Linked DNA regions of Homo sapiens. The protein of the gene in region 1 interacts with the protein of each later gene in a biochemical or structural test. Each region holds a gene or a part of one and is shown on either strand. Other genes may lie near its edges. The genes, in order: LRRC7, PPP1R9B, CNKSR2 and CTNND2.

Evidence for each region.
Region 2: the proteins of LRRC7 (region 1) and PPP1R9B form a complex in vitro, tested with the Homo sapiens proteins (one study listed by BioGRID).
Region 3: the proteins of LRRC7 (region 1) and CNKSR2 form a complex in vitro, tested with the Homo sapiens proteins (one study listed by BioGRID).
Region 4: the proteins of LRRC7 (region 1) and CTNND2 form a complex in vitro, tested with the Homo sapiens proteins (one study listed by BioGRID).

Annotation. Positions count from the first base shown.
Region 1 is NC_000001.11:70,137,322-70,144,864, forward strand, and holds the end of LRRC7 (leucine-rich repeat-containing protein 7), read left to right. Parts: 3' UTR 1-7,043; downstream 7,044-7,543.
Region 2 is NC_000017.11:50,147,678-50,155,387, reverse strand, and holds the start of PPP1R9B (neurabin-2), read left to right. Parts: upstream 1-4,710; 5' UTR 4,711-4,874; coding exon 4,875-6,245; intron 6,246-6,560; exon of another isoform or gene 6,561-6,653; intron 6,654-7,710. UniProt on the Homo sapiens protein: Seems to act as a scaffold protein in multiple signaling pathways. Modulates excitatory synaptic transmission and dendritic spine morphology. Binds to actin filaments (F-actin) and shows cross-linking activity. Binds along the sides of the F-actin.
Region 3 is NC_000023.11:21,426,418-21,433,417, forward strand, and holds part of CNKSR2 (connector enhancer of kinase suppressor of ras 2), read left to right. Parts: intron 1-79; coding exon 80-243; intron 244-6,194; coding exon 6,195-6,397; intron 6,398-7,000.
Region 4 is NC_000005.10:11,341,116-11,348,715, reverse strand, and holds part of CTNND2 (catenin delta-2), read left to right. Parts: intron 1-2,088; coding exon 2,089-2,344; intron 2,345-7,600. UniProt on the Homo sapiens protein: Has a critical role in neuronal development, particularly in the formation and/or maintenance of dendritic spines and synapses. Involved in the regulation of Wnt signaling.

The DNA.
Region 1 (7,543 bases):
TTCATCTTAAGGCTTGATAACAAAGGCTTACTGTTCCACTTAAAGGGATCAATCTGAGGGAAGAAGAGAAGTTAACCTTTAGTGACCCTTGAAAGCTTTAAAATAATTCTTTTGTGTTTTAGACACCTAAGAAAAATGTACGTACATCTGGTGGACTTGCATATCTTTAACACTTATCATGTACCTACATACAAGGAAAACATTAGTCTTTACTGTTAGCAAACACTCCACCACTGGGGGTTGCTTTGTGTTTAAGTACCTAATAGACCCACCAGAGTTCAGTAAGAAATGCAACTTGAACAGCCCCTGAGATAAAATTTTCTAGGAAGTATAAAAACTAAAGAATGCCTGGAACTATGCAGACATAGATCAAGTCTCATGCATGTCATTTAGACAGACAGCTGAAATGCTGACATGGCCTATCCAGCCAGAGCCTTCAATTAAGAGTTCTCCAATGTTGACAATTTCAGCTGCCCTAGCAGCCTCTCTAAGCACTAAGAAGTATAGCCATCTAAATCCTTACAACTTATTCTAAGGGAAGAATCTCTTTAGAGATTACATTACACCAGCAAGAGAATATTAATAGTCCATATGGCTTTATTTCCAACAAAATCCCAGAGTTTTTGCTTGCTCTTTGAGGTTAAAATCAAAGATTTTTCACTCAGGATTAGCCTAGATGTAGAACAGCGACTGTATAATAAAGTTGAGTTCAAAAAGTGTATGAATTCAGTTATGGTCTGGAAAATTAGCTGCCATTTTGTGATGAAGTGTTTGGTTTTTCCTTGTAGAAACTTAGTGTCATTGCGCATCAACTTAGAAAATGTGAATTGATTAAAAATATGTGATGGATTGTGCAGCATGCTTACATTTGAAAATGGAGATTGTGCCTTTAAATACTTAATCAAAGGACTCCTGACCTTCAAGTACCAGTTTGGGCATATTACTGGAGATCCAGGTTGAAAGGTATTGAAAAAAAAGCTCTGTATCTTTGTATATTCAGTTGTCAACATGGAGAAGCCACCTTTTAAAAAAGATCAGTTCTGTAAAGCATAATGCCTACTACACAGACATCATTATTCTACTTAAAAGTCTTTTTTTAAAATTCCAAATACTTGTGGTAGTAGAAAGCAATAAATATTCTAAAATGAGGGATATTGGTCCTTTTGTGACTGAGCTATATGATAAACTAAGGAAAACTACAGAAGTTATGTCTATTAACTCTTTAAGGTACATGATATAGCAAATAATCATTTGTACAACCTCATAGAAAGTTGAGAGGATTAATCAAATTGTTTCAAAATTTTTAAGGAGCCAAATTTAAATTCTCAATACCCTATGAGATTTTTTAAACTATTTTAGATTCTTACCAGAAGAATGCATAGATGTAGTAAAACCATTAAATACAGTAGTATCTGGTGGCCTTTCTGTGTGGAGGAGCTCGTTTGTCCAAGGTATGATCTACCAGTGAGAAGATCAGTGCCAGGTCACAGAAAAAGCTAATCATTTTTAGTTTAATCCTGACCAGCTAGTCTTCCTCCAGGCATCAGCTACCTGATTTTAAAGAGACCATATTAGAAATGAAAAGCAGCAGTCTCTATCATATGTTAAATTCAAAGGCATAGCTGCTCGTGAAGACCCTATTATGTTTTATTTGCCTATCGGAGAAAGAGATCTGCCTACCTGCCTTTAGGAAAAAGCAATGCTTTATGTAGCTTCAATTAGTCCTGCATCAGGTTATTCTAATGCTTCCTACTGCAAAAACCAAGCCCACAAGTCTCCAATCCTAAAAGTCACTAGAATATTGATATAAGGAATTCTGTGTCAGCAGTATCTCAGTATTCAAACCTCTGTTTAGGGTCCTGCATGTACTATCAAACAGCAAGTGATAGAACATTCAGGCGTTTTATTGGATTTCAGAATTCAGATTCAGAATTAAGTACTCTTGGGATAAAGGAAATTAACGAGCTTTTGACATTTCAAGAACTCATTGAGATTGTCAAAGGCTTCAGTAATGAACTCTAACAAATAGATCCAGAAGTCATAAGTGAGAAAGAAAACAAGCATGTCTAGTGAAATCTGTCCAGTGTACGTAACACTGCACAAAGAGCATATTTTATTCAGACCATTTGGATTCAGATGTACCCTAAAGACAACTATGCTATAATGGCTTGTCTCCTACTTCCTGGCCTCTAGCCCTACCCATTGCCCAGGTGGACGTTATGTTTTTAGTTTTTCCTTTGTGGGTGAGGGAAGAAGAGGACATCAGGTGAAGTGTGCCATTACTATTTGAAAACTAGCTCTGCAGGAAGGGTTAAATCAAATCCTTTACAGGGTGACCTTCCTACATCTCCTTAGAGCAACTGCATTTCAAAATAGGCCAAAGCTGAAGTCATAGGAATGAGACATTAATTGTAGGTTTTCAGGAAAGCTTCGGAGACACGGCAGGTACAGTCTCCTTAGAGCCTTTGAAAATACAACATGTAGGTCCTTCTCAGATTATGCTGAAACTCCAAATCCTTGTTAAAGGTTTTCCTGGACTCCTACAGTCTGGTTTGATCAGTTTATTATTAAGTACTGAATGACAGAGAAGGGTACACAGGGAGGACTTGTATCACATGAAGTAAAATAATTATTTCCTTAATGAGAAACTTAATTCTAGGGTACTTACAATAGCTGCCTTATTGGGGGAAGGGAGGCATAGATTTGCAAATGGTGGGTTTTTTCGTTTTTTTGTGTGTTGGAGTAATTGAAAAGATACATCAAGCAATAATAAACTAGATGTGCAATAATCTTGTCGAGTAGTATGTGCTGGTTTTGGAAAGGTGAAAAGAAAATTGTTACATCAGGCTGCTTTTATCAAGCTAAGCATGGGCATGCCTTTCCAAAGGGTATATTTGATCCTACAGTTAATTTTAACATTGGGCTGCAAGCTTAACCTCATCAGGAGTGGAATTAGATTTTACAAAGTTCCCCTTATCCAAACTACAGCACGCTTACTACTTTCTCCTTCCATTTTCCACACCTCAGCCCCCTAGGACCAGCTACTGGTAAGTCATTTTGTCCATTTTCATTGATCTGGCCACATAAGGAACATCCTGTTTCTTTAAATCCTCAATGCTTAAATTGCCATGTAGAAATCAACTCCCTATCAATTTTCTACATTTAATCCTTGGCTTCTTGTCATATTTTCATTTTTCTGCACTGGTTCCCATGGCAACAAGTCTGTTGGCAGAGAAAGTATGACTCTGCTTTTAGCCTTCTGCACAAGACAAAATCCTTCTGGTGATCCTCAGGCAAGTATAATATAAAAAGTCAGGAATTGACTACAGTTCCCTTGGCTAATGCCTCTAATCCTTTACTCTCTTGCATGCATTTTCCACCTTATTCCCAAACCAGGCTTGAGAAAAAAAGCATTCAAGGGCCCTGCCCAGTATCTCTTTACTGATACAAGTATTCAAAGGCCCTCCTATCCAATCACAGCCACAAAGACTGAATATTTTGGTTCAGATGGCTTTCCCTTCTCCCTAAGTGTCAGTGACTTAACTGACATAAATGCATAATTAATGACAAGGACCACTGGGAGCAGCATCGAGAAGCAACTTTCAGTCATTTTTCTATAAACAACTTTCCTCAGTTCGCAACTGAGGTGTAGCCCAGGGAATAAGTATGTCCTGAATTGAGCCTTAAATCAGTGACTAATAAGGCAATGGAACACTCAAGCAGATTTTCCTCTAATGAGTAGTTAAGTGGCACAGGAGGAGAGGCCAAGGAGTCATCCCAGAGTTCTAAGCTCATAAAGAGGAAGAGATAACAAAAGATGTAGATAAGAGGACATTGTTAACTGGTGGCTGCAAATGAGCAAGGGAGCTTCATTCAGTTGGGACAATTCAGGGTTCAGGTACGAAAAGGGTATGAAGCCTACTGAAAAATAAGGAAATGGAGCATGGAGAAAGAAAGGGTTTTTAAGAGTTAAGTCAGTAGAAAGGGAGCCTGCAAATGAGACAATAGCTTCATGCAGACTTTGGCCCAACTCTGTCTACAAATACTTTTGCAAATAATGTTTCTCTTAATAAAATGATATATTTTGTTTTGAACTTTGGAATTCCATTGTGGCTTGGCACTAAATTATAGGCCTAGCAATCCTAAATCTCCTATGTCCTCAATATCTAGAAACAAGCAGGAACTGTTTGTCAGAAATTAAACAGGACTTATTTGAATGTGCTTTAAAAAAAAAATCAATGAATTCAGGGGAATGAAAATACATGTTAGAAATTAAAATGTGGTTATCTCAGCTATAGTTAAGAAAATTATCAAATGTAAATGATCCCTTTTTTGCTGGATCTTATAAAATATGTGATACTTAAGTACACTGAAGTTTTAAAGTTAGCTGCTTATATTGTACAAAGATATTTTTGGCTCTTTAAAGGTTATTTTCCTATATTAAGAAAAGGTTTCTTATATTGAAAACTTTTATGGTGACTCAGGTTTTGTGTCTATGTATAGGCACACATAAATAGGAGGTGTTTTTCTTTGCACATTTGTTTTGCACAGCTAAAATAATGAGGTTAAATAATGCCCAGGTATGCAGGTCAATTGACCTTTTTAATAGCTTAACGAAAGCATTTGACAAATGGACAAAAGAAATCACATTGTATTTCTTTGTATCTCTCCATTCCTCTTACCCTTCCCCAACCCTCTACTAAAGAATATTTCTTATTTAGTCAGGAAATCTTATGTAATATTTTTGGACGGTCCATAGGAAAAGCAAGATGAAACTCTCAGGCAGACAACATAAAGCAGCTCCCATATCTGCTAGAAAGGTCATTAATTTTCAGAATATATTGTTGAAATAATTTTTATTTTCAATACTTGTAGTCTTTCCACTCAGAGGACTCTTATTTGGCTTGAATGTGGAAAAGGCATCTGGTTCAGGTCAGTAAGGACTGTTGTATGTAAGTTTTACTCTAGAAAATTTGGTTTTAGCTTTGATGACACCTAGCGTCAGTGGAATGCAATGAATGCTTAATACTTCGGCTTTATAATGTTTGGGCATTTCTCTTTAACATCCTCAAATACACTTTCATCCTTGAAAACACAAGCCTATTTTCTGTTTGAAATGAAGAGAAAGGTAATTGACAGATAAACAGATAGTTTTTGTTTGAAGAGCCAATCAAGTTTCTCTTTGTACTCAGTAGGGACTAAAGGAAGCTTAAGGATAATGACATTGTCTTCATATGAAGAAGAAATTTTTTACTAGTGGAAAATTAGAAGTAAATCTACCAAATTCTGTTTGTAAATTTTAAAGACCACCACAAAAGACCTTGAAAAAAGTGAAACTACTGCAAGATTACTGTTGCTTATTGAAAGTAATAATACAGTTTTATTTTTTCCACTTTATAACTGCCCAAGGGCTCCCCCAACCAGCTATATATAAGAAAACCATAACATGAACTAGGGTCTTTCTATTCAAAAAAGAAATATTAAACTAACATAAGCAATTCTGAAGGAAGACAGTGGTAGGTTTTCAGATGGTTTGTTAAGAATTATATGTAAAAGGATACTAGATATTATGTTTTGGATGTTTTCTAAGTATCTATGAAAATTATTTTTTCCTAAACGATTTCATAATTGATTACTTTTGACCTCAGTTATTTTGGGGCATAATCCTTTTACTACTCTATAAAGAAGTTCTACTTCTACCTATATGAATTTGTATTTTCCCATATGCCAAACACACACACATAAATTTTCTTTTTCTCATTTCAGCTCATATAATTCAGTTAGTGAAATATTTCACTCTTCTGTAAGTTTAAGAAAAATTCCTAAGCAGTGATACAACTTTGGGTCGCTATTTTAGTAAAATGAAGAGTCTCTAGACTTTTTTTTTTTTTTTAATGATCTCTGACTTCACTACCATATGTGCAGCACAACAGTGACATCTTAAGGCCAAGTAACCAGAGCTCCTTTAGCCAGAGAAAGAACTTGAATTGGGATCTGATTTCAAAGAAATCCCATTATATTATCAAGTCGTTTTCAAATTTACAATATTCGACTGGTAAAGAAAGTGCTTCTTTATGACTTCTTTTGCAGTCTTTGTGAACCTTTTAATGTGCAATAGTAAACATTGACATTTTACATAGACATATTGTATATTAATGCATGCATTTCACTGCATAGTTTATTGACACTACCCTTGTAAAGCTTTTATGGAAGAACCAACAAGCCACAGCAGTATAGCAAAAGAGGCTTAATCTTTATAAATTGGGGCCTTTTCTGTCTCTTTGCTAGCCTAGGTGGCTGTATACAAATTCGGGTGGGAGGGGGCAGGAAACACCTCTTCACATTTAAGGTTTTCTACTTGGGTGTACTCTAGCCAATTCAAAACAAATTGCTTACTTTAATAATACAATTTTACCATTTTATAAAAAAAATCAAATCACAACATGTTTAACTGAAATGGCTGTATTGTAATTAATATTTTGAGATAATTGTGATTTTGAGCTTAAATTATATATAAAAAATTGTCATTTTTGTATGTGTTAAAAAGACTACTATATCACAATTAAAAGTACTTTTTAGTTGAACTACATATTGATGTAAATAAAACTGAATGAAGACATATTTACTACTTTATTAACATAGATCGTGAATGTACTTACTGGTTTTTTTGCAGTATGAGACCATAACAACCTTGAAAGCTGCTTCATTTTATGTGCAAAGAAGTCCTATGAATCTATATTTTAAATTTACTGAACCAGTGAAATTAATTACTGTCAGTTAATTTGCAAATGCAAGCTGTATTCTCCAGTTTTATTTTATGTACTGACACTAATTGGTAAAGGTGTACAATGTGATTAGAATGCATTTTGAAGATGCTTTCTGTACAGATACAAAATACAGGGACTAAAATAATGCTGTGCAGTGTATAGCAGAGCCATTTTTCGGCTTTGGTGTACTCAACTTTTTCAGTATTTAAAAAAGTGTTTTGAATAACATAAAAGTCTCCTTATTGTATAAATAATAAAATGTCACCTTATTGTAAAGTGTCTTTTGTTTACTATCAAAGCAGACCTCGTAGTCAGCAACAGAGATGTAATAAGAAAAAGGCATGTTTTTGTTTTTATTTTTTATTTTTTTGAGATGGAGGAGTTTCACTCTTACCCAAGGCTGGAGTACAGAGTGGCGCGATCTCAGCACTCTGTCATCCTCTGCCTCCTGGGTTCAAGTGATTCTCCTGCCTCAGCCTCCCAAGATGCTGAGATTACAGGCACATGCACCATGCCCGGATAGTTTTTTTTGGTTTTGTTTTTTGTATTTTTAGTAGAGACGGGGGTTTCACCATGTTAGCCAGGCTGGTCTTGAACTCCTGACCTCAAGTGATCTGCCCGCCTCAGCCTCCCGAAGTGTTGGGATTACAGGCGTAAGCCACTGCCCCCAGCCAAAAAGGCATGTTTTTTTTAAAATGAAAACATAAACATTGTAATCAATATTTGAAAAATGTAACTTTTATTCTGAACATGTAGTATTTATCTTTATTAGCAAT
Region 2 (7,710 bases), on another chromosome or scaffold:
AGCTCCCACAGCTACGGGCTGTCTGCCTTGCAAAATACATATTTACAGGCCCTCTAAGCCCAGCTAAATATAGGCTTTCTTTTAAAGCAACTGATGATTTGGAGAAATCTTTCCTCTGTCCAACCCCTTCCCCCGCCCCCCAACACACACACACACCCTGACTCCTCCTACCAAGTCTCCCTCCCTAGTCTCCAAGATGTATCTGAACTTTCCAAGAGCCACTGGAGCAAGTGTGGAGAGTGATAGAAAGAAACTGGGTACAGCAGAGGGAACCAGCAGCAAGGCAGTCTCCTAGCTGTGAGAGGACCCTAAGGGACCCCTCTCCCTGCAGGGACAATGAGGGGCTTGAGGCACCCACAGGCAGGAGTGAAAAACCCTTTGGGAAGTAGAGAAGAGAGGTCATCCCAAGAATGACCCCCAAAGATTTGGAGAAGCTGTAAGCAAGGGGTGTTTATATTTCAGAATTTCACATATTGAACCTTAAAGAAAATGAGAGCCCCAAAGTCCTGTGAAGACACACAGAGAGATGCAAACACCGAGTTTCATTCTCAGCCACACCTGCCCACATGTGCATGCAGGCACACACCCCCACATGTGCTTGGATACCCTGCAATCAGTAACAGCCAACACTCTGAGCCCCCTTTTAGTGCCTTATGCATTGAGGACCCATTTATTCCTCACAAAAACTCTATGAAGTTGGTATATTATCTTCATCTTATAGATGAAGGAATTTGTTGAAGCCCCTTAGCTGGGGAGTGGGAGGTTGGAGATTCTAACAGAGATGGCCTGGCTTCAAGGCCTGTGCTGCATGCACAAAAGTGAGGGACACCTAGGGTTATCTATGCTCAGGAAACACTCAGACACTCAAGCTAAGCTTTTTGAGGAAACAGGCTTTGGGAGGGGACACGACTAGCCCACGGTCATCCAGCAAATGAGTGCAGCTAGGACTCAATTCAGGCCTCATGAACCCTAGCCTGGTCTGTTTCCTTTAAAACTAGGTATGTCACTTCTCAGCTTTCGTCATTCTCCCTGTGAAGAGGTCAGCCAAGGGCCACTAAAGGCCCCTCCAACACTGACATCCTGGATTTGAGGTGTACACACACCTTTCCAGCATACCTTTCCAGCATCCTATAACCAGCCCAAATCCCTGGCAGAGGTCAACTCTTGAAGGAGAGCAACTGGGTGGGGACCACTGGCTCACCACAAAAGGATCCAAGTGCAGGGTCTGGGCCAGCCTCTGCTTAGATGACCGTGGCCAAGGAAAAACCGCTTTTAGAAGCTGAGTCTCAAGGCCCCAGGGCTGGAAAGAGAAGCCAGCCTTGGCACCCAGCCCGGGCCTGCGCCCAGGGCGCTGAGGGCTCGGGACTTATCGCTCGTCAGGCCTCTCCCTGCCTTCATCACTATCTTTGCAGTTACACCTGGTGTTTAAAACTAGCAAGCCTTGGGGAAGAGTCCTAACAGAGCATCTTCCCAAGGGCCCTAAGCAGATTTGGGGGGGTGTGGGAAAGCTGTGGCAGGGGGGCGGTTACCAGGAGGAGAGTTGGGGGTGAATTATCTCTGCCTATCGCAGCCTCTGGCCTTTTTAGCACAGGCTGGGAAAGGCGTCTCCTCCCCCACACCCTATCTTCTGTGTCCGAGCCACTCTCGTCCTTTCTGGGCCTTCTTTCATCCTCCCAGGGCACAGAGGAGGATAAGTGACTTGTCCAAGGTCACACAGCCAGTAAGCAGTGAAGCCAAGATTTGAACCCTAGCAGCCTGGCTCCTAGGTCAACCACTCTATGCCAAGGCAAAGGTAAGGAAGGAACTTCCATCCAAAGACCACTGGGCAACTTGGCCATCAAAGTCTCTTCCATGAAGACAAAGGAAAGAGAAAGGGTGGTTAAATTATCCTGGAGTGCTTCCTCACTGGAGGATGTAGGTGAAGATGACAGCCCAATGAATGAAAATTCTATTTAAAGCCTTCAGTTTGGATGGTAACCCTCCCAAACCCTCCTTGTTCCTATCAGGTGCGATTACTGCTCCAGACAGGCAGAGAAGGGATGGAGGGAATGAGACCCCATTCTTCACCCATCTCACAGGCCAGCCGGCTTGGTGCCTGACACCAGAGAACAAGTGATGGTGAAGCACTTACCGCTCCATAAAAGCGTCTTTGGGAATTCTGGCCAGGGTGTTGCTCTGCTAACCAGGAGCCCATGAAATAATAATCCCACTGATTAGCCTCAGTCCCCCAAGCTCTGGCTAGCTCCACCCTCTTGAAGCCCAAACCCCCTAGAAGGGTCTGTTAAAGGGGTTTGTCCGGAGATTCATAATCCTTTGGACAAGGGAGACCCAAGAGCACCCCTGTAATTCCAGTTTGCTCTAAGCTGCTACCGGAAATGCTGGGAGTCCGAGGGTCTCTGGGCCTGGTAGCTGGTTCTCAGCTCCTTCTCCCACCCTCAGAAACTGGGGGCTTCCCCACCTGGCCAGACGCGTGGGCACAGACCCCTTGGGCTGGGACCAGTTAAGATGATCTACCACCAAGGGTGTGGGAGATTCTGGGCAGAACACAGGGGCCTGCGCCCTCCTCCAATCCACACAAGAGCTTCTGAGTACATTGTACAAACTTCCAAACCCCAACTGGGTGAGGTTTCTGTCTTCTCCGGACTTCTATATTGGGGTTGGGGGGCCTGTGGGGAGGGGTTTTCAAGACCCAATCTTGAGTTTGGAAATCTAAGTCCCAAAGCTTGCTCCTGACAGAGGCCTTCTAAGAAGGGTTAGGAGACAGACTTCTTCACCCTGCACCATCCCAAAGTGCAAAACTGGGGAGGGGTAAGTTTCCTGGGCAACTGGGCAAAGATGCAGGTGGCATTTGGAAAGTGTGAGGTCTGGGTTCACTTCCGGCTCTAGCTCACAACCTAGATCTTCCCTCTTCCTTAGCACCAGCCTCAGGATCAGTCCTGCGGTTCCTGGCCCCTCCCGATCCCAATATCCAGGGTTCCCAGGCGGCTTCCCCACACCCCATCCCCCACGCTGTACTCTAAGCTCTTTTGCACATGGTAACGCGTTAATATCCCACAAAACCCACACACACCCCTGCAGTGGAGTGGTAGGAGGGCTCCCTTTGCCAGCCCTTCCAGGCCAGGGGGGAGAGAGTGGGAGATTAGGAAAAGGAGGAAGAGGATGGAGGGGAAGAGGGCGGGGGAGGAGGCAGAGGCCGCAGAAAGGCCTGAGATGCAGGAAGCAGCTGGGAGTGGGGGGAGGCTTTGTGCCTGAGTTGTTCTCTGGGTCCTAGGGCCCATTGTGTTCACCAGTTTCTGGGATGTGTGGAATGAACCAGCTCACCTGGACCTGTCCAGAGGGCGGACTCTCACACCCAGGGCCCAGGCAGCGCCAGCACCCTAGCTGTGTATGCGGGGGGTGCAGAGGGCATCAAACAGCTTTCTGGGTTGCCAGGACAGGGGATGTGTAAGTCACTGTCACCCTCCCCACCCCCCCACCCCAACCGGAACACAGTGGCCAGGATCCTTTAAATCAGAGACCCAAGTTAGAGCTCTCACTGGCGAAACTTTGGCCCCAGGCCTCTCGAATTCCTGCTCCCAAACCCTTCCTTCCGGTTTGAGAGGCAGGAGTGCCAGGGTAGGGGCCTGAAGACGGGTGCACAGCAGACAGGCGACAGGACATCCTTTCCAGACTTCGGCAGTTTTGGTGATCCCCTGCTACTTGGATGACGGGGTTCACCTCCTTTCTTCACCACCCCTCCCCCACCATCGAAAGGTCACCAGCGCTGGACCAAGGTTTCACACCTCCAAGGGGGCCAAAGATTGCCTGTAGTGAAGTGTTAAAATGCAGATTCCTGGGTTCAGCCTCGGAGATTCTCCTTCACAAGGTTCGAGAGAGATCCCAGAAATCTGCATTTTTACCAAGTGCCCAGCGATTCTGATGCTAAAGGCTTGAAGCACACCGAAGAGCTAGCTCCGAGGACACTGAAGAATGAACCTCTGCCCCTCCCTACAAACCCCCTCCCCTCACACTGAGACCATCGTGGATGTACTGCCTCCCCCCAATATTTCATGGAGGTGCGGTTCTGTGGGTTGTGACCGCAGTCAGAAGTTGTGATGGAAGCAGGTTGAAGAGTGCTGGCCAACGTCCGGGGGCAGCGGAAGGCTCTCCGCGAGGGCTGGGGAGGGGAGGGGATCCGTTCGGGTGGAGGGGAAGGGGAGGGCTCACAGGCTCCGGCCCCGGAAATCCGATCCCTTTAGGACCCAGAGGTGCCAGTCCCCCAGCGGCGGCTGCGAGAAGGGCAGCCGCTCGGTCTCCGGCAGCCGCCGCTCGGGCAAAGCCAGAGAAAGACCGAGGCTCGGGGCACGGGGGGGAGGGAGGGAGGGAGGGAGGCGCGGCGGCGGAGCGGCCCGGGCCGGCGGAGCAGCCATGGGCGTTGGGGTGCCGGGCCCCCCGAGAGCCGAGGCCTCCGGCCGGACTGGGGGACGCCCGGGCTGCCAGCCCCGCTGACACCGTCTCGGACGATGTGAGCCGGCGACACCGCGGCTGCTTCGCGGGCAGGGCGCGCGCTCCCACCGGCCCCAGACGCCGCTTTGCTAATTTGGGTGGGGGCGACCGTACCAGGCCGCTCGGGCTTTTGAAGCGGGGCTGGCTGTCTTCGGCAGCTTGATTGGGGGAGGCGACCCACACACAGGGCGCTTGGAGATTTTTTTTTTTTCATTTTTTTTTTTAAAGCGGGATTAACTGTTTTTGGCAGCTTGGTTTTGGGGGGACCCTAAAAAAGGCCTTCGGGGTTTCTTTTATCGGGGGGAGGGGGCGGTGGTCCCGACTTGGCCAGCCGCCTGTTGAAGCGGGGGAGCGGGGAGCAGGGGCATGCGAACCCGGCTCCCCCCACCATGATGAAGACGGAGCCACGGGGGCCCGGGGGTCCCCTCCGGAGCGCCTCCCCGCACCGCAGCGCCTACGAGGCGGGCATCCAGGCGCTGAAGCCGCCCGACGCGCCCGGGCCCGACGAGGCACCCAAGGGGGCCCACCACAAGAAATATGGCTCCAACGTCCACCGCATCAAAAGTATGTTCCTGCAGATGGGCACGACGGCGGGGCCCTCGGGCGAGGCGGGCGGCGGCGCGGGCCTGGCCGAGGCCCCACGGGCGTCCGAGCGCGGCGTGCGCCTGTCGCTGCCGCGGGCCAGCAGCCTGAACGAGAACGTGGACCACAGCGCCCTGCTGAAGCTGGGCACCAGCGTGTCGGAGCGCGTGAGCCGCTTCGACTCCAAGCCCGCGCCCTCCGCGCAGCCTGCGCCGCCGCCGCACCCGCCGTCCCGGCTGCAGGAGACGCGGAAGCTGTTCGAACGGAGCGCCCCAGCGGCCGCAGGCGGCGACAAGGAGGCCGCGGCGCGGCGGCTGCTGAGGCAGGAGCGCGCCGGCCTGCAGGACCGGAAGCTGGACGTCGTGGTGCGCTTCAACGGCAGCACCGAGGCGCTGGACAAGCTGGACGCTGACGCCGTGTCCCCCACGGTCAGCCAGCTCAGCGCCGTCTTCGAGAAGGCCGACTCGAGGACCGGCCTCCACCGCGGGCCCGGGCTCCCCAGGGCCGCAGGGGTTCCCCAGGTCAACTCGAAGCTGGTCAGCAAGCGGTCCCGGGTGTTCCAGCCCCCGCCGCCGCCGCCGCCCGCCCCGTCGGGGGATGCCCCGGCCGAGAAAGAGCGATGCCCCGCAGGGCAGCAGCCCCCGCAGCACCGAGTGGCCCCTGCCCGGCCGCCCCCCAAGCCCCGGGAGGTGCGCAAGATTAAGCCGGTGGAGGTGGAGGAGAGCGGGGAGTCGGAGGCCGAGTCGGCGCCCGGGGAGGTGATCCAGGCCGAGGTTACGGTCCACGCGGCCCTGGAGAATGGCAGCACCGTGGCAACTGCAGCCAGCCCCGCGCCCGAGGAGCCAAAGGCCCAAGCGGCCCCGGAGAAGGAGGCGGCGGCGGTAGCGCCGCCAGAGAGGGGGGTGGGCAATGGCCGGGCCCCGGACGTGGCCCCTGAGGAGGTAGATGAATCCAAGAAGGAGGACTTCTCGGAGGCGGACTTGGTGGACGTGAGCGCCTACAGTGGGCTCGGGGAGGACTCTGCGGGCAGTGCCCTGGAGGAGGACGACGAAGACGACGAGGAGGATGGGGAGCCCCCCTACGAGCCCGAGTCGGGGTGCGTGGAGATCCCGGGGCTGTCGGAGGAGGAGGACCCAGCCCCGAGCCGGAAGATCCATTTCAGCACGGCGCCCATCCAAGTAAGTGAGCCCCCCCGCCCTGCCCCCGCGCCGCCCCTGCCACGTGCACGCGGCCGCCCCCGCTCGCCAGCCAGCCAGCCGGGTTTGGCAGGCTGAGTCAGCCCCTGCCACCCAGCCCCCTTCCCAGAAGTTCCCACCCTCAGGGGGGCGTGGGGGAGTTCCAGCTGTTTGTCAGAGAGGGATTTTCAGGTGTGCGAGGGGGGTGGCCTGCCCCGACCTGCCCTCAGGTTCCTCCGCCTGCTGCCCCGCCCCGCCGCTCCGCGGAACCCGCCCTGCCCCACGCGGGTCCTGGGACACCTGCTTTCCCTTCCTCACCCGGACATTCCTTCCTCCAGAGGCTGCCAGAGGCTGGGGTTGGGTAGTGTGAAGGGGTGTGTGTGTCTTCAGGAGAGACATTTGCCCTTCACTGGGTAGAGAGGGGGCCGGGGTGCTTTCCCCCTGTATGGGAGCTGGATGAGGTGAGAAAGGGGAAAGCCAGGAACTTCTCAAAACGAAGCTGCAGGGGACCGCAGGCAGCCCTTCCTCTATTCTGTTTGTACCCCCACCCCAACTTTGCAGAAGTGAAAGAGGGAAGCAGATCGTGAGGGTGAGCTGGTCTGTGGCCATGTGACTGGCTGGCGCCGTGTTCCCTGGGGGTCCCTGCAGGCCAGCTGCCCGGTCCTCCTTGCACAGGGAGGGGCACTTTGTGTGGTCCTTGATGGGGAGAGGCCTTCTGCAGGCATGGAGGAGGAGGAGGTGGGGCTGGGATCCCCCTGGGTGCCTGGCAGTAGTGGGCATGCCTTTACTCTTGGCTGCTCAATAGGACAGACTCCCATGGCCTTGGCAGGCCCCAAGTGTTCTTGCCACATTCTCTGGGAGCCCTGAAAGAGGGATGGGAGCTGCCCCTTTTGGGGGTCTCATCCCCACGGCCACTATTGGTGGTTGGTTTGTGGGTTGTGCCAGAGCTTTGAGATCCTCAGAACAGCCCTGATGGGGAGGGAACATCCCCTGGGGGGAATCAAAAACCCCAGGCCACCCCTCCCCCCACTTCCCACCACCCTCCACTCTTGGCTAGCACATTCAGCCTGCAGGGTTCTTCCTCACCGCCCCAGGCTCAGCTGCACCCGGCCCCAGGTCCGCCCCATGGAAGTGTCCAGGTCCCTGGACTCTCCTTGGCCTGGACCCTGCCCTGCCTTTACCCTTCCCTAGCCAAAGCACCATCTGTTTGCTTGTCGTTTCCATAACTACTCCTGGACTCTGAAGCTTCCCAACTTTCCTCTCACTCGCCCAGAATGTCAGCCTCTGCCCCTCTCCCACCTCCCACCCCAGCAAGAGGCCTGAAAGGTTAAAAGTGAGTGGCTCTCAGGCCAGCCTCTCCCCTGGGCTGGGACCTGCGGGGTCCTCTCCCAACCCCTTTCCCCTCCTGAAGGCAGTGGGGTTCTGAAGGGAATGGGGGACTGTAGTGTTTCTTGGGACTCTGAAGCAG
Region 3 (7,000 bases), on another chromosome or scaffold:
GCTTGCTTCTAACCCACCCTTCACATTTATTTGGTTTGACCATGTTTTCATTCTGGTCTTTCATACTTTTATTTTGTAGGTCTTGATGACTGTTTGCAGCAGTATATTAAGAACTTTGAGAGGGAGAAGATCAGTGGGGACCAGCTGCTGCGCATTACACATCAGGAGCTAGAAGATCTGGGGGTCAGCCGCATTGGCCATCAGGAACTGATCTTGGAAGCAGTTGACCTTCTGTGTGCATTGGTAAGGACATAAAACTGGTGAAGAGGGAAACTTCTCTTTTTCTTCTTTTGTTGCTTTTCCCTTTTTTCTTCTCCTCTTTTGATAATCGAAATGCAAATAGAAGAAAAAAACTCTGATTCTCAACCAGCTGGACCTGATATTTTCTTCCTTCCTTAAATTTATTATATTAGTGCCAAATAACAGTTCCCTGTTTGTAACATCTTTTATAACAGTAAGACTTGGGTATATCAGAACCTTAAGTCCAGAGTGTATGTCTCATAAGCAGGGCTCTTCATAGATGAACCACTCATGTGCTAGGCTCTCACACTGCCAGTTGAGAAAGGAAAGAATATTGATTGACAGTGTTACATACATACAGTCTAGACGTTTGAAGTTTGACCCATGAACAAGGCTCTGCCGACCTAAACCTACTTAAAAGGATGGCATCAGAAATAGATGTCTAGACCACTTCTAAGTTTGAACCATGTAGCTGTGGTGAATCCTTTCTGATGCTGAGCTTTAATCCCTGTACAGTTCTGGGTTTAAGCACCAGGTTTAAGTCATGTCATTTGGATAGTTCATTATGTGATTGAGCTCTTCTGGAAGTTAATGCGGAAAATAAATTTAAACACCATTTTTTTTTCTGTTTATTCAGCAATTCCTTAGTCGCAGTCCCCAAAGAGGTCAAATGTTAAACTTCCTTCTTACCCCTTCCTAATGTAGTGGATATACATCAACAAGTCAGAAGTACAGATGTATTTCAGTTTATGCAACAGATGCTTTCTGGGGAATATAAAGCAAATTTCTGGGTAGTGAATTCTAATTTTCTTCTACATACCATTATGAAATCAGGAGGTGAGATTCCTTATCAACAAGCTGAGTTGACTAGTCCAGGAAGTTGTGCTATTGGGACTATATCTTTACCTCCTTCCCCTCTATCCCCAACTACTCTTTGAATTTCCGTTTACCCTGCTAAGTCTTGTCTCTCTGATCTTTACTGGCCTTTCTACATTTTCCTTATGTCTACTGTATTCATTTCTTTTTCAACAATTACATATTCATGCTCAAACAGTGCTATCACGGGGAATGCAAAGATGAAAAAGACAGTCTGTACTCCTGAAACATATACAGTCCATTAAGAAAGACAATAGCCATCAGAAGACAACATAGATTTAAAGAAAATTCCAGGGGAGTGTAGAAGGAAATGAACACTTCTGAGGGATTCAGGAAGTGTAGGTAAGATATGCATTTGGTCTTGCAGGATGATGAGATGTTTGCCAGACAAAAAGTTGGAGAAAAGTTATCTAGGCAGAAGAAATATCATGTGTAAAGACAGAATTGTGAAAGAATATGGAATATTCAGAGAAAATTGAGAATTTTCATTTAGCTTGTGCAGAATGGGAAGTGATGGGAAAAAAGGGAACTTAACACCTTGTATTACAATTCTTTGCTTAGGTTCTTTTATCCTTTAATTCATGTTGGGCTCCTCAAAGGAAGACATCTTTGTTTAGTTCATATTTTTTATTCAGCTTTCTGCCCAGTGCTTAGCTCATAAAAGATGCTAAATTAATGTTATCTTACTGAATTAAACTCTCTGTCTTTCTTCAGAGAAGCATAATTTTTCTCTTACCTGCATAGCCTTTGACTTTGAAGTTTCTGTTCCTCATATAAAGGAAGACATAGAAAAATTAGCAGATTCCTTTTGTTTCTTTAAGCTATACTATATTTTCGTCTACCTTGTCTTGAAGTTATTCCTTATGTGAATAAATGTTTATGGCAGCTGATGAGAATCAAAGGTTTATTTAGTCACTTGTTTATTCATGCAACATATATTTATTAAGCATCAGATATATTGTTTGCATCATGTTATTCTAGAAAGAAGTAAGCTGTTCATGATTTGGAGGTGTAATAATATTTCAAGCTATTAAGCTATAATTTAGTATGCTTTAATAGAGAGCAAAGATATTAACTGAAAGAGTAAAAATGTAAATAAAAATATATATATAGCTTAACGTATGGTCCTTAATTTGTGTTCTGACAATACACTTTTTATTAGGAACTGTAAATAAATCATTTATGACAGGATAAGAACAGTTTTCATTTCATTTTTCATGTACTTATAATTTCAGGCATTTTGCATGAAAGATTTGATGTTTGCAATTGCTGGGATTTGTTTCTTTGCAACATAATTGCTTGGTTCATTCATCTTAAAATAATTTATTTTCCAAAAAAATTCATTAAAGCAAGCCTTTTAGGACTCACTCATATTTATAAAGCAATGTATTATAAAGCTAAAAAGGTGCTACACGATGCATTCAAATTAAGAACTCTGAATAAAATGGCATTGACATTGTAAAATCTGTTGTTGCCAATATTAAGTATTTCTAGTTAAGTGGTTAGTGAAAATTTGCCACTAGTGAGGATATAGCTGACCTTATTTTTCTAAAATGTTAAATACATTTCTTTATTTCTTTCAAATGCTTTTGCATGCATATGATTGAAAGAGAAGGCTGATATGAACTTAGCATAAATTCATTAAGACTTAAATGGCTGTGTTGAATCAGTTCTAAGTCATTACTGGTTCTGGCACATGGTAATGGCCAAGTATATGAACAAATAAGTAACATATATGACAAACACAGCAGCTAAGTACATTTCATGTATAAGTTTTTGTTTTCTTGAGGTAGTCCTTTTTATACTAATAGTAATACCAAGTTTTGCTATGCATATCCAATAAAAAGCAAATCTGTGGTGAATAAACCTGCATTTTTAAAAAGTTGAGGCAGTGCCCTCCGTACCCCTGGCCTAACACAAAAGGTGCTTGATATACTTGTCAGTTCTTTAAATGGTAGGTAAGGGTGTGTGATTTACTGGTGACTTACCATGTCACAACAAACCATCCACTTACATGAAAGAAATAGCCAGAAGGTATCTGTATTGGTAGTAATTGAGAATTGTAATTATAAAAATTAACCTGAGGCTGGGCATGGTGGCATGCCTGTAATTCCAGCACTTTGGGAGCCTGAGGAGGGCAGATCACTTGAGCCTAGGAGTTCAAGACCAGCCTGGGCAATGTAGCAAGACCACATCTCTACAAAAAATTTAAAAATTAGCCAGGTGTGCTGGCATACACCTGTAGTACCAGGTACTTAGAAGGCTGAGGTGGAAGGATCGCTTGAACCCAGGAAGTCCAGGCTGCAGTGAGCTGTGATAATGCCACTGCACTCCATCCTGGGTGACAGAACGAGACCCTGTATCAAAAAAATAAAATAAAATAAATTTTAAAAATTAAAAAGTTAACTTGAGAGATCAATTAATCTCTTTTGTTAAAATAGTAGCACATAAATCTGGTTACATACAGATGAGCTTCTTACCTATTATACTCTTCTAAATTTTTAAAACATGTTTTTAGATTATCAGTGTAGTTATGTTCATTAACTAGAGCAAGTTTTAACAATTTCCTTCCCCATCCTCTGCTACATATCTTTTAAAGATTCTTTTTTCCTCTGCATTTCTCTGTCCTCTACATTTTTCACCTCTATTCTGCGTAATATATTTTTAGGAGGTTTCCAAGTTAGAACCTCTGAGAGTATCCTTCCAGGTTTTGTCCGGATGATTATTATATTCCCTAATTCTTGAGTCATATGAAAAATAATAATTTTAGTTTCTTAAATTTTGAAGACTCTGGAATATTTTTACTTTGCCTTTGGATTTTTACTTATAAGAAGATTAATATTATTTTACCTTTCCTAATAAATCATTTGAGATGCTAGTGTTATATAGAGATAAACAATTTAAAATAATCTTTTATGGAGGCTAATAGCTACAGAGTGAAATATCAGTTACCAAGTTGAGTAGGTTTCTCGCTAATAAATTGTTATAATTTGAACTTCTCTAAGAGATTACTATAATTTGTTGGCAAACAAATGTTTTCTTATTAAACTCATTTATACACAAAAATGAAAAATACAATCATTTTTTACTTTAGAAAAATGCTTTAACACAGGGAAAACTTCTGAAAATACTTTGCTTTTCAGTATTTTCATTTACAATTACATTTACAGAAGAAATATCATTTACAGTTAGTTTGTATAGTTATAAATTGTTCTTATCTAGTCATTAGAGAGCATCTTTTATAAACATAAGAGGATTTCTTTCATACTGTAGTGACCGGCTGGACAAACTCTCCCACATTTCACAAATAATCCATTCTTAAATGCAATAGAATTTGAATAGAATGTTGTTTTATTTGCCCAAGCAAATCTTTTAACATGAGAGAAGAATATTACAGTTCAAATTAAGCAGTGAATATTTAACATATTAATACTATGTTATTTTAGAAAACAAATTTATAACTTTAGAAGAAAGTGTTCTTTTAATAAATATGTAAATTCCCAGCAAAAGACAAGCAGACTTTTATCACGATTAAATCTGTAGTGGTAACATACATAACTTGGTATTTAATGTTTAGGCATCAAAACCTTCCTCTCCCCTCATTTTGTCTCCACTAAGTTTTCTCTTGTCTTAAATTGTCATAGGAAAAAAAGACACCTAAATGTTATATACAAAGTAGGTACCCAGTGATTGTTGACTTAATAACATAGCTTAATTCATTGTATGGCTTACTTTCCTTTTTCACCCTTCATCTTCCACTTTGACTTAATTATTGTTACCATGTTTCTGAGAATAGGAGTAGAATATTGGTGCTAAGGAATGTGGTAGACATATCCGCTCACAGATGGCCTGGTGACTTGTAGTTCCATTCTGAACTCTGTCTAGTCCAAGTACAGAGTTTTTTAAGCAAACTGTTAAAAAAGAAATCTTCCCATACCTCAGTTTCCCCAACTGTGAAAAGGTAAGTCAAACTTAGCCTCCCAGGCCCAAGCAAATTCTTACATTCTTTGGGTTTTGCCATTTTAAGTAAGGTGGTAATAACTTTAACTTTACACACAACAGTAATGTGCATGCTGCTAAGTGTTTTAATCAAGGTTATCCTTGGATAATATTAACCAGCCTTTTTAAGGGGTGTTTTACAACACACAATTAGCTGCTTTACATTTTAATTGTAACTTTTGAAAACTTTCCCCAAAGTTTGAAGGGATCCTACAATCTTTTTCTATTTGAAGATAGTAAAAAGGCTTATTACACTTATTCATATAACCCGTTTCTGCTATAAAGTATAATAGATAAGATATTTAGGATGAATTAACAAATATTAGTTGAAATGTGAGAACAAAGAAAAGAAGAAAACAAATACACTTACCAAAAAGTCACTGTGATTGCTTTTGGTGTGCTTCATATTTAGTTGTGAGCTAATACAGCCAGGACAAAAACAAAAATAATTTTAGTTTCATAATTTGTATTACAAAAAGGAGAAAGTATATTAGTTCCCCTGAGGAAGCAGAGTTTTTCCTGATACCATATTATAAAAGAAACTTCTTATACATCATTATGTAGAGTACGTATTTTTTTATCTGATTTATTTACCTGATTTATTTCTTGCTTTTTCATTTTATTATTGTTGGTTGTGTTTATTTTCCTAACTTTGGGGAAGCAGAATTATCCCTAGTACCTACATTCCTGACCATGTGTATTGTTAATAGAATATCTACTCAAAAATAATTGTTGATAATAATTAATTTCACAAGTAAATAAACTTAGGTTTTGGTTTTAAAAAACAAATTTATTATTTCTTACAATCTTGCTTTCTTGGGTAGCATAGTTCTAAGATACAATGCCCTTATCTTTCCATGTTCATATTAGTACTTAACACATTTTATTATAATTTCTTTATATGACATCTTCCCAAATAGTCACTTAACTGTGGGCTCCGCTAGGTCAGGAATCCTATCTTATTCATTTGTAACTCGAATGCTACCCCATTGCCTGTGCATAATAAAGTATTCAGTAAATATTTTCATGAATGAATAAAACTGACTTTAAATATATTCTCTCTCTTTTTTATAATTCAGAATTATGGCTTGGAAACAGAAAATCTAAAAACCCTTTCTCACAAGTTGAATGCATCTGCCAAAAATCTGCAGAATTTTATAACAGGAAGGAGAAGGAGTGGCCATTATGATGGGAGGACCAGCCGAAAATTGCCAAACGACTTTCTGACCTCAGTTGTGGATCTGATTGGAGCAGCCAAGAGTCTGCTTGCCTGGTTGGACAGGTAAAGTCTTCCGCATGTTTCATAAGTATCCTCTCCTCAGACACCAGTTTGAATATAACATTATTTTGCATTTTGTTGTGAAAGGATTGGACAGGCAGAGGAGTACCAAGTAATAAATGTCTAATGATGATTTACCACAATATAGGGGTATTAAATAGATATTAGTCTTTTATAAAATTTGATGTCCAACTAAGTAGCCAATCAATAATTAGTCTGACAACTGTAAAATACCTTGCTGCTTTATAAGCAAAATCATTATTTGGCTGTCATAATAAAATTTATAAATTTTTGTTTATTATAATACTGCTTTGTGTCCTGATGTTCTTTATTCATATTAATTGGTTGTACTTAAGGAAATGACCATTGGGATTCTATAAACTGTTTTAAATAGGTAATTAGACACTGACACCTTCATAGCATGCCTTGTATGTCTCCTTGGCCTCGCTTCATTCATTCTCTGTTATTAATTACATTGTACTATTTTGGATATCATAAACACACTTTTAGACTTTTTTAAGTTTAGTTGACTTTCATTTGTTTTGGAACACATAAAATAGTATAAAAGTCTTGTAATATGAAATGAAAATGTTAGATTTAAATTAT
Region 4 (7,600 bases), on another chromosome or scaffold:
TGTGGGTAGTCAAATTGTTCTCCTTACCTACTCTGTTGTTTTCTTAACAAAAAGACTTCTTTAGATTTCAATATTATTTCCTGATCTCTGACACTTTAATCATTGTATTGAATACATTAATAGCAAATGATTTTGCATAGAAAACTATTTCTTTCCTGAAAACCATTTTCAGCAAGATTAAATGTTGATACTTAGTTTTCTGAATGGAAAAAAATGCACATCTATGAAAAATGCCAGATGTACTTAGTTTTCTTTTTTCTTTTTTTTTTTTTTTTTTTGCCCTTGATTTTCTGGCTAGCTTATCACAACTTGTAGAAAATGAAATTTTGTTTACCTCTGTACATTTGTTCATCCAAGAGCAAGTTTATGACTTGCCTGTTTTAAACCCCTTTCAGCATAATATAAGGCACATTATGCATAAATTTTAAAATGTGGATTTTAATTACACATGCTGGTAATACTTTGGAGAAACGATAAATCCTCAAGGACTTGCATAAGGACATAAAGCGGATTTTCTGATTGTGCAGTTAATGTTTATTAGCCTAATCTGATTATTTTGAGACTTAACACATCAGGACAACCTTCGTTATTTCAAAATATTGTCCCTCTGGGAATATATGCACTTTTTGTTTATAAAGTTTCTCTTAAATATTTTTGTCATTTTTGTCATGTCACGGAACCTAATTTCCTAAATTTTTGTAATTCTAAGATGAAGTCTTGAAAGTTCACTGGGAAAGAAGAGCCCTGAACTCTTAAGTCAATCCTCGGTATTAGAGTGTATTCCTCCCATTCACTTTGCAGATTTTCATCATTTCGACACAATTTCCTTACCTCTTTTAATAATTATTTTCTCAGCATGACATAATGTCCTTTGTGTCTGATTTGGTATATGTCCCCTAATGTAAAAGAGGATAAAATAAGCTCTATCATTGTTCACTAAGAAATGGTTAGGAAGTCAGAGATGTATAATTGATAATTAGAACCTAATTCCCATAGAGCACCCATGTCATAAATGGTCCTATCTAGCCACTGGCTGTATTTTGGATATGAAGTCTGTTCTACAGCACCAGAAAGCAAGTGGGCTGTCTGCTGTTGATCATGACTAGCAGTCTAAAGCAGTTAATAACTGGTCATATTCTACTGAAATGAAAGATGCTATTTTCATTGTATCTATCAACCAAACCTTAGATGTCAAATATATTTTGAGAACCAGATAAAAATAATGACATGAAAGGATCTAAAAAGAATCCAAGAGGGAAACAAAAAATTGAAATTCAGTTTCAAAATAGTCAAACTGATTTTAGTAACTAGTGTAAAATCTTCTCAAAACAATTTAGACACATTGAGAAGATGCAAATACTTTCAGAAAAGCTAAGTCAGCTCCTTATTTTGTCTGCCTTGCAGTTGGGTTGGTTTTGGCCTTATTCTCCCTTCACCAAATGTGTTTGTTTCTGTGACAGCTTCACTTGAAAAAGAGGCATATAAAAATCTTTCGGGAGTTACTTTACAAAAACTAGAGCAGTCATGGATTGAATGTTCTGGTGCTAATTATGGAGATGTGAACCCCACCTCTTCTCACCTCCACCCCCATGCATACACTCCCTCTCATTTCTTCTTATTTTCTTTGATTCAAGAAAATTAACTACATTACTAATTACATTACTGAATTCATTTTACATCTTTAATAAAGTTAATATAACATTACCGGAACACATTCTGAATCTTCTCAACTTGAAAATGAAGAATTAACTTCCCATGCCTCCTTAGAAAGTATTCTCTATATTTCTTCTTATGCACAAAGTTTATATTGCAGCTGAACACACCTTCTGTTGGATGTAGGTAAGCGATATACACACAACAGATGCATTCCCCCCATACCTGAAAGGTTTGTCTCTTAGGCATGCTAATTATCATTTGACTGGATAACATTGAATGTATTGGTTCAAATATGATGGATTAATTTTTTTTATTCTTTTGAACCCCCTATTTTTTATGTGTGTAACTTCCCCTGCCCCTGCCTAGACCTGGTTAACCATTTCTGTGAGCAGGTCCTCAATTTTTTACTTTGTCCCTACTTTCCTGTCGTAGCCCCATCTTCCCCTGGTGTCGACTCCGTCCCCTTGCAGCGCACAGGCAGCCAGCACGGCCCACAGAATGCCGCCGCGGCCACCTTCCAGAGGGCCAGCTATGCCGCCGGCCCAGCCTCCAATTACGCGGACCCCTACCGACAGCTGCAGTATTGTCCCTCTGTTGAGTCTCCATACAGCAAATCCGGCCCTGCTCTCCCGCCTGAAGGCACCTTGGCCAGGTCCCCGTCCATTGATAGCATTCAGAAAGATCCCAGGTGGGTAAAAACCTTTTTCTTTCCCTATGATGTCTAAAGAGGTTTTGTAACCTGGTACTGTAATTTATTTCACGTCATGTTGCATTTATGTCACTGACTATTAAAGGGTTGGCTTTTCTTGGGTTTTCTTTTGTTTGACTTGGAATGTGTGTGCTTGCAATGGATCCCTAGTATCTTTGGTGGTTCATCACCAAAAACAGAGATGATCTTTTGATCAGAGTATCTATATGTGCTTGATGTTTAGCTACTTGATGAGATGTAAACAGCCGTCTTTAATACAGGGGAAACTGGGGACTGGAGGCTATGTCATTTGACTTCAGATATCATGGCCTACATATTTTATTGTCTCAGTGGAAGTATGCTTTGTCATCATGCGTATTTCTATTTATCAGATTGCAAAGGGGTACACCTTCCAAGCTATAGTAAAATTGAAAATTTAGAAATTTTACATGGCCTTCATTTCTCTATGTCTGAAAATAAACATTAGGATGAAGTTGTTTAAAGACTGATAAAAATGTGAGCATAATATATTAGAGAAATTGTTGTTATGGAGGTTTTTTTTTGTGGTTGTTGTTGCTGTTTTTTCTTTCTTTCTTTCTTTTTTCCATCAGTGGCAAGGGGTTTAGCAATGCTCTGCTTGTAAAGTTGGATTTGAGTCCCTGTAGAGTTAAAGGATGTTTTATTCATAGCCATTGGATTTATGCTGATAGAGTCCCATAAATATATATATCTGCATCTGTGAATACTGTTGATATGTCAGATTGCTGATATTTCTTTATGGCAGGGCAGGTGGCTTGACTCTGGTCTTGTACTTAAAATTCATCTCAAGGAATTTTCACTGATGGAGCACGCAAGTTCCTGTGTACTGTATTGAGGGGTTGGAATAGATTTTTTTGCAAAAAGAAATCACTTCTGCAAATATAAAAGGCAGAATGGGATCATTTTATGGTTTACGTTGAGATAGCTACTTTAGCACAATTCAAACCTGCTTGGAAGGTCCATGTTAAATATTGTATTTGGTATAACACCATTGAAAAAGTGAATTGTAATAAGTGCTTACTGTTATCTACCAGAAATCGGAAGCATTCTTTTGTTTACTATGTTCAGTGTACTGGTTATCTAGATTTTCAGTCTCAACAGCACTCTTTATAGTCTTGGTCCTGAAACCTGCCCCAGATCCTTAAGTATTCTTGGCATGTATGGCAAGCGTATTCATCAGAAAATACCTCAACATATTCCCTATTTTAAAATAATCTTTCTTGATATGCTACTGAAAATGTGTAGAAATAGCGTAATAGTGAACCCTTAAGAAATGCTAAAAGACAAAAATATGTGATTTGACATTGTTTATATTTAACATAGGAGGTTTAAATTGACAATAAACATTTTATCTCTGATGGAAATACTTTAAATTTTCATATTAGGAATTTAGCTTAATAAGAAACCAAATTATATTTCTCTAGCTGTAGCATAGCTTCTGTATTTAATACTGTGTATTAAATGCATTTTATTTTATTAAATGGCGTATCCTTTCCATTTTATGTTACTGTCATTTTTACAGCCTTTTTTCTTCTCTCAATATATTGACACAGCTCTTACCTTTTCAAGTTATGGATTATGTCACTTATATTTATTGAGTGCCTGCTATAAACCAAAAAAGAAAAACACCAATAAGAAGGGTTAGAATGAATAAGAGAATATTGACCACTAAGCTTTTGTATGCGTCAAATTTGTATGCAGATTAGTGCTATATGAATTATAAGTTCATCCTGAGCTCAGACCCACAGACCCCCCAAAAAAAAGAAAAGAAAAGAAAAAACAAATCTAGAACCAGAACTGGACTATTGTGGTTTATTATAAAAGGGATTCATTATCTGGCATCATGCAAAATGTATGGAGCATAAAGTGTAGTAATATAATACCTTTCTTGTCGGGTTTTCTTAAAATTAAGGAATGTCTCAACATGTTTTTTTTTTTTTTGAGACGGAGTCTCGTTTTGTCGCCCAGGCTGGAGTGCTGTGGCGCGATCTCCGCTCACTGCAAGCTCCGCCTTCCGGGTTCACACCATTCTCCTGCCTCAGCCTCCCGAGTAGCTGGGACTACAGGCGCCCGCCACCGCGCCCGGCTAATTTTTTGTATTTTTAGTAGAGACGGGGTTTCACCGTGGTCTCGATCTCCTGACCTCGTGATCCACCCGCCTCGGCCTCCCAAAGTGCTGGGATTACAGGCGTGAGCCACCGCGCCCGGCAACATGTTTTTATTTAATGGAGAGACGTGCCAAATTTAAACTTCAGGTCCAAAATATAGTAATTCTTTTAAGACAAGATTTTTGCATTTTCCCTTAAATATTATAATTTGATTCCTCATAGGTGAATATTACCAGAACTAATATGTTTAACTTCTAGGGCTCACACTTATTTATTTTGGCGTTATGGCTTATTATTTAAATCTTTTCAATGTTTTCAAGCTTTTGAAATATATTTACATATATTTAAGAGAATTTGTTAACATTTTATTTACTGCCAAACACCAGGCTATGTAAGCCTCTTTATCATTATAAACATATGTTTATAGCACATTACAATCTTCAAAGTAGGCTTACTTACATCTTTGATGTAATCCTCCTTTGTGAGCAGAAACTGATATCCCATATTTAATGCCTTAAATAAATGCAGAATCAGAATGTTAAATGACTTCTTGAAAATGCATTGGTGCCAGGTGAGTGTGCGGACCTACATCTACATTGTTAGCACATATTGAATCCATACTGCAGCACATGTTGGCACGAACATTTTTATTTCTTTACAAAAAAGAAAAAGGAAAAAGAAAGAGTATATTTATGATTTTTTTTCAGAGGATGAATGGCAGTACCAGTATCTGTGTAGGAGTTGGGAAGAATGAAGGAAATTGTCTAAGTAGTTCTGGCATCCCTGATCGATTGCTTATTGGATGTGTGGTCTTTGTTATATTTTTCATTTCCGGCATCTACCTTATTTTTCTTATTGTAGACCAGTATCTCTTCTCTGTTAGAGAGTTTTAGTATTATTCAGTGAGAAGTGTTTAAGCAAATACTGCATTTTGAAATAATAATTTGAAGTCATGGCAGTTCCACTTCATCATTAGACTTGAAACCAGAGAAGCCATATTGACTTTCTGTGACTCTAAGTCATAGGATACAAAAGGATTGGTTCTGAGGGGTTGGGATTTTCTTGTTGATGGTTGGCTCAGTCATTTGGATTGTGGCAAAGCTTTGGTCTTTTCTCTTTTGACTAGTCATCCTATATGCCAACAGAAAACCCACAGAAATGTCTTATCCAATTTTCTTTGTAAAGCCAGCAGTCACTGAGATCATTTTTAAACCTGTAAAATTCCCTTTACAGCCCCATTTGCTAAGAAGATTTTATTTGTAATTGTATGTTATTTTCCATAAAATGTGAATCTCTTAAGGATTGTTATCATAGCTAATATATTTGTAGGTACTACACCAGCTATTGAGTTCTATATACTGTTGTTTTTAAACATGAAAGTCAAATATAACTCTTAAATTATATGAAAGAAGTGTCAGTCATGTTGGTAGTGATAAGTCACAAAAGCATTCTCATTTTGAAAATTTGATGATGAAACAAATGGAAAAAAACACAGCAAGACTGATATACCCAGATATACTAAGGGTATTATAACTGTCTTGTCTATCAAATAATAAAAGTCATGGTTAAGATATATTACTGACATAATGTGTAAATTGTAGCAGTAATAGCAACTTTTAATCGTGTTTGATTAATCCCTTTTTGAGATGTTGTAATCCTTGGTGTACACTATCTCGAAAGCAGTTTTTCAAACATGCTTAAAGAATCTCACTTTTTATGAATGTGATTTGCAATAGAACACTATCTTCTATTTTGTTATTCATCATAACAGGAATACATACAATGGCACATTTTTAATGCTGATGCTGGGCCCAAATTATAGCAGCTGCACTTTCAGTCGGCTCTATCAAACTCACTCCATGGATTTGTTCCGTTTCAAACCGCAAAATTTGACTAAGAGTATGACAATATGCACTTTTAAGGAATTATGTATACATTTCCACTATATTTTGTGTGCTGTTTCGAAATAGTAACAACATTTATCTTATTGTTGGACACTTTATTGTTAAATCTCATTAATGAATATTACTTATAAATATTTTACTACTAGGTAAACCTTGGTAAAGAATGTTTTCCAAATGCTGCTTTTTCTTTTTTTAACTGTTCACGACGCATGTGCACATGTGGACACACACACACACACCCACGCGCATGCATATATAGTGAATTGAAAGCTCAGGAAACAAAATATACTATAAAAATGCTTTTATTTTTTGAGACAAGGTTTTGCCCTGTCACCCAGGCTGGAGTGCAGTGGTGTGATCCTAGCTCATTGCAGGCTCAAACTTCCAGGCTCAAATGATCCTCCCACCTCAGCCTCCCAAGTAGGTGGGACTACAGGCTGGCCACAAGCCTGGTTAAATTGTTTTTATTATTTTTTTTAGAGAAGGGGTCTTGCTGTGCTGCCCAGGCTGGTCTTGAACTCCCTGACTCAAGTGATCCTCCTGCCTTGGCCTCCCATAGGGTTGGAGTTGCAAGCATGAGCTACAGTGCCTGGCATAAAAATGCTTTTAAAAAGATGAAGACTTGAAGAATATTTTTTAAATATTAAAGTTTAAACAGTATTATGTAACTTGTTACCATGTAACTCAAATAACATGGCTGAAATGTTTGCAGTAAACCACATATCATATTTTTCAGGGTCCAATTCTCTCAGGTGATGAATCTCTGGGTAGTTTGCTTTTAACTTCAAATGCTCACTAATTATTTATTTAACTGAGGAAATATCCAAGGGGAGAAATACTGGATTCACAACTTAAAGACTTCTGGAGTTTGAAGAGTGCCGGAGGTCGTTTATCAGTTGAGCTAATAGCAATCCCAAAACCTTGCCATTCAGCCCCTGCTTGAATGCCTTGAGCAACAGGCCCCTCACCATCTCTTGAACCATTTTATTTTTCTTTGAGTAATCCAAGCCTTATGCACTAGTTTATATTGATACAGAAATCTGCATCTTTTGTAAGTTCCTTCACTGATCTTGTTTCTGACCTTTGAAATCGTTTGAGAATACACCTATCCCTTTTTCAAAGAGTGGCCTTGGGAGACAGTTCCTGCACCTCACTCCCAGGCCCAAGGCTCCTGCCCCTGTGCTAGCTGCCATTGTTCCATGAGC